Regions from separate parts of the Homo sapiens genome. Here region 1 is linked to region 2. A link means that fine-mapping ties the variant in region 2 to the expression of a gene that starts in the linked region. Tissue or cell type: spleen. Region 2 holds a variant in brackets; the other region holds the start of a gene. All regions are shown on one strand. Distances are between the middles of the regions.

Region 1 (2,500 bases), 360 kb before region 2:
GGCGCCTGTAGTCCTAGCTACTCAGCAGGCTGCGGCAGGAGAATCACTTGAACCCAGGAGGCGGAGGCTGCAGTGAGCTGAGATCGCGCCACTGCACTCCAGCCTGGGTGACAGCGCGAGACTCCGTCAAAAAAAAAAAAAAAAAAAATCCTCTAATGGCATCCCCTAGGTAATAAAAACCCGGCTATAGAAGATATCCTACCCGATTCAAGCCTCCCAATCTCCTACTTGCCCGGCTTGCTCTTCTTCAAGAGCCTCCTTGCAAGTCCCCCAATAACCCAGATACCTTCCCTTAGGGTCCAGGCATTGGGTGTCCCTTTTGCCTGGAATTCTTATACTCAGACATCTCTACGGCTAATTTCCTCACCTCCAAATTTCTGCTTAAATGTCAAGTTTAACTGACCTGACAATCCTACACAGAACTGCTTTAGCCCTTCAGCCCTAGGACATTCCTATTTCCTTCTCCCACAGCACTTATCACTAATATACTATGAAATTCGCTTTTTTTTTTTTTCACCACAGCACTTATACTAATATACTATGAACTTTTTTTTTTCCACCACAGCACTTATCACTAATATACTATGAACTTCTCTTTTTTTTTCATTTTGAGACGGAGTCTCGCTATGTCGCCAGGCTGGAGTGCAGTGCGGCAGGATCTCGGCTCACTGCAACCTCCGCCTCCGCCTCCCGGGTTCAAGTGATTGTCGTGTCTCAGCCTCCCGAGTAGGTGGGACTACAGGCGCGCGCTACCATGCACGACTAATTTTTGTATTTTTAGTAGAGACGGGGTTTCGCCGTGTTGGCCAGGCTGGTCTCGAACTCCTGACTTCAGGTGATCCGCCCGCCTCGGCCTCCCGAAGTGCTGGGAGGCCGCCGTGCAGGGTCCTTCTTTTACTCTGACGTTGCAACAACAGCCTCGCCGCCCACTGTTCACTCGCAGTATCCCAAGAACTAAACCAGTAGCAACACAGAACTCAGCAAGCATTCGAATAAGTGAATGAAAGAATTAATGACGTTACTCCATACTTGGGCTTCACCACTTCGTCTAGCACAGCCGTTGTTAAAACAGGAAAAATGCAATCGCAGATGCCAGCAGAGGTCTGTTGGTTCAAAATTATAGTTTCTTTGGGCCAGCGGAAGTTGGGCGCGGGACCCAAGAGAGAGAACGCCCCTTACCGCCTCACCTCCTTCCTCCCCTCATCTTCCTATCTCAAACCAAAACGACAATGCAATTTATCCCCAACCGGAAATTTGACAGTGAAAGGGAGCTCTACTAATAATTGCACTGGGACAAGAAGTGTAAGGCGAAACTACCTGGGCAACCTCAAGCAATGCTTTACACTCGGCTGCCAAACGGAAAGGACCACTTCCGCCCAGCTCTCCCGCTACGGGGAGCCAAGTGCCACAGCATCCGGAGCGCCGACGCGGGACCGGAAGTGACGCAGAGAAGTTTCCGGGACTGGTGAGTAGTGGGCGATTTAAAAACCCGCGAGTGTAGTTGTGACCTTCGCGGTAGGTGCCGGTTGGGGCCGGCTGTGATTGTTATCTTGGTGCTGCAGAGGACAGCAGAAGAGGAGATTGGGTCAGAAAACTGCCCTGCCGCACCAGAGCACAGCGCACTAGTGGGACAGGGGTCCTGACTCAGACTTAACTGGCTGTGTCTCGTGGTTTTTCACTGTCCTGGAAAAGGCCTGAAGTGGCACTGAAATGAGGCATAGATGAGGTAACGTCGAGGGAGCGGTTTGCAGGTTGCAAAGGGGCCCTACTGATGCTGCTTAATAGTAAACAGTGCTTACTCTAGGACGGGAGTTGTTTCCAGCTTTACGTGTAAATCTCGCGATATTGTGGCCTGGGCACTATTTCCATTAAGGAGGAAACTGCACAGGATAAGTCATTTACCTGCTGTTGCACAGCTCTGGCTCTAGGATTCAGGCTGGCTTCAGAGTCGGTGCTCTTAACCGCCATACTATGTTGCCTTCTGTTGTCGTTGTTGACTGTGGCCATGTAGCTTCGCAGTTTCCTCATCTGTAACAGTAAATAACTCAAAACCTGCATGATGGCCCACTAGGGTTTCACTTTCGAGCTTGCCAGATGTAGAAAATGCTGGAGAATGGAGTACTATGAGGACCATTAGAAGATCTTTCAAGGCCGGACGCAGTGGCTCACCCCTGTAATCCCGGTACTCTTGGAGGCCGAGGCAGGTGGATCACTTGAGCGCAGGAGTTTGAGACCAGCCTGGGCAACATGGCGAATCCCCATCTCTACTAAAAATACAAAAATTAGCCAGGTGTGGTGTTTAGCGCCTGTAGTCCCAGCTGCTCAGGAGGCTGAGGTGGGAGGATCTGCTTGAGCTCAGGAAGTCGAGGCTGCAGTGAGCTGAGATCACGCCACTGCACTCCAGCCTAGGCGCCTAGTGAAACCCTGTGTCAAAAAGAAAAAAACAAAAACAAACTTCCAAGACCTCGAGTGGTTTTTGGAGACCCTGTATCACTTCAAA
Region 2 (2,762 bases):
ATTATTTTTTAAGAACAGTTTCAGGTTTAGAGAAAAAACAGAGCAGATTAGCTGGGCATGGTGGTATGCACCTGTAGTCCCAGCTTATTCATATGCTTATTTGCCATCTGCGTATCTTTTTGTGAGGTGTCTGTTCAGACCTCTTGCCCACTTTTCAATCGGGTTGTTTTCTTATTGTTGAGTCTTAACAGATTAGCTTAATCAGATTGGCTTCGGGAGGCTAAGGCGAGAGGATCGCTTGAGCGCGGGAGGCGGAGGTTGCAGTGAGTTGAGATCACACCACTGCACTCTAGCCTAGGTGACAGAGAGAGACCCTGTCTCAGAAAGAAAAAAAAAGAAAGAGCAGAAAGTAGAGAGTTCCCATATACCCTCTGCCTCCTACACTTCTCCCCTCCCCACACTTTCCCGTTATTAACATCTTGCATTAGTGTGGTACATTTGTTACAAGTGATGAACCAATATTGATATTGTAGGGGAGGGCAAATCTGTTTTCCTTCTACCCTTCTAAGTTCATGGCTGAGAACCCTATAACAGAAGACAGATTAATAAGAGAAAAGTGCATAAACATATTTAAGTTTTATGTGACATGGAAGCCTTTATAAGGAAATGAAGACTCCAAGAAGCAGTTACAGTTTGATGTAGGTTTGATAAAGGGTGGACAGTTGTGGAGGATATGATAGAGCAAAGAGTTTGAAGTAAGTGTAGTCCGCTGGCAGAAGCTTATCAAGGCCCGTTTGTTTAGTTAGATTCCTCTCTGTGTCCCTTTGTCTTCACAGATACCACCAGGTATAGGGAGGGCATCTCTCACCTGAGGGTCTTATGACCTGGCTTCAGGAGAAGGTCAGAAAACCCTTCCTGCACATGCTGCTTTTGCAAATTCCTTCACCTTAAAATATTCAATATGTCATTGTGTTAGTCTGTTCTTGCATTGCTCTAAAGAGATACCTGAGGTTGGGCAATCTATAAAGAAAAGAGTTTTAATTGGCTCATGGTTCCACAGACTGTATAGGAAGCATGATGCTGGCATCTGCTTGGCTTCTGGGGAGGCCTCAGGAAACTTACAATTATGGTGGAAGACAAAGGGGGAGCGAGACATCTCATGTGGCTAGAGCAGGGGAAGCAAGAGAGCGGGGAGGTGC[C/A]ACATATTTTTAAACAACCAGAATATCATGAGAATTCTATCATGCAAACAGCACTGTGGGGATGGTGCTAAACTATTAGAAACCACCCCCAAGATCCAATCACCTCCCACCAGGCTCCGCCTCCAACATTAGGAATTACAACTGGACATGAGTTTGGGTGAGGACACAAATCCAAACCATGTCAGTCGTGGTGCCATATTTTGTGGTAGCACGTCCTGAATCCCATCAATAAATTATTCTGAACTAAAGTTCCATAGTTTCCATTAGGGTTCACTTTTGGTGTACATCCTACCGGTTTTGCCAAATGAATAATGCCATGTAGAACCGTTACAATATTGTACAGAATAATTTCACTCCCCTAAAAATCCCCTGTGCTGAACCTATTCACACTTCCTCCCCTGAGTCCCTGGCAACCACTGTCTCTATAGTTTTAATCAGAATGTCACATAGTTGGAATCATACAGTATGTAGCCTCTCCAGATTGCCTTCTTTCACATAGTAACATTCAATTAAGGCTCTTCCATGCCTTTGCGTGGTTTGATAGCTCATTTCTTTTTATTGCTGAATAATAATCTATGGTATGGATGTGCCACAGTTTATCCATTCATTTATTGAGGGACATCTTGGTTGCTTCCAACTTTTGGCAGTTATGAATTATGAATAAAGCTGGTATAAACATTCATGTGCAGGTTTTTGCATGGACATAAATGTTCAATTTGGGTAAATATCTAGAAACGTGATTGCTGGATCTTGCGGTAAGCATATGCTTTGGCCAGGCGCGGTGGCTCATGACTGTGATCCCAGCACTTTGGGAGGCTGAGGTGGGATCACCTGAGATCAGCAGTTTAAGACCAGTCTGGCTAACACAGTGAAACCTCATCTCTACTAAAAAAAATACAAAAATTAGCTGGGCGTGGTGGCGTGTGCCTGTAATCCCAGCTACTCAGGAAGCTGAGGCAGGAGAATCGCTTGAACCTGGGAGGTGGAGGTTGCATTGAGCCAAGATGGCGCCACTGCACTCCAGCCTGGGCAATAGAGTGAGACTCTGTGTCAAAAAAAAAAAAAAAGAAAAAAAAATGGCCAGGCGCAGTGGCTCACACCTGTAATCTCAGCACTTTGGGAGGCGGAGGCAGGTGTATTATTTGAAGTCAGGAGTTTAACACCAGCCCGACCAACATGGTGAAACCCTGTCTCTACTAAAAATACAAAAATTAGCTGGGCGTGGTGGTCATGCCGGTAATCCCAGCAACTTGGGAGGCTGAGGCAGGAGAATCGCTTGAACCCAGAGGCAGAGGCTGTAGTGAGCCAAGATCACACTTGCCGTTGCACTCCAGCCTGGGAGACAGAGTGAGACTCCGTCTAAAAAAAAAAAAAGCTTCATGACAAACTTCCAGACTTTCTTCCAAAGTGTCCGTATGAGTTTTCATTCCCACGAGTAATGAATGAGAGTTCCTGTTACTTCACATCCTTGCCAATGTTTGGTGGTGTCAGTGTTTCGGATTTTAGCAATTTTGGCAAATATGTAGTGGTATCTCACTGTTGTTTTAATTTGCAATTCCCTAATGACATATGATGTTGAACATCTTTTCATATGCTTATTTGCCATCTGTATATGTTTTTGGT

The links. PIP is the estimated chance that this variant, and not a neighbour inherited with it, causes the effect.
Region 1: it holds the start of PPIL3, and the variant in region 2 is fine-mapped to the expression of PPIL3 in spleen (GTEx, PIP 0.94).

The regions. Positions count from the first base shown.
Region 1 is chr2:200,887,927-200,890,426 of GRCh38, forward strand. PPIL3 (peptidylprolyl isomerase like 3) reads right to left here and starts at 1,151. Exons shown (of 7, transcript NM_130906.3): 1 at 1,030-1,151. NIF3L1 (NGG1 interacting factor 3 like 1) reads left to right here and starts at 1,445. Exons shown (of 7, transcript NM_001369441.2): 1 at 1,445-1,726. RefSeq lists enhancers at 231-975, 669-718, 787-1,986, 839-1,088, 976-1,720 and 1 more.
Region 2 is chr2:201,249,404-201,252,165 of GRCh38, forward strand. It overlaps a transcript of CASP8 not described here. Among named protein-coding and RNA genes, the nearest start is that of CASP8, 9.8 kb to the right of the region's middle. The variant C/A (reference allele first, on the strand shown) is at 1,140.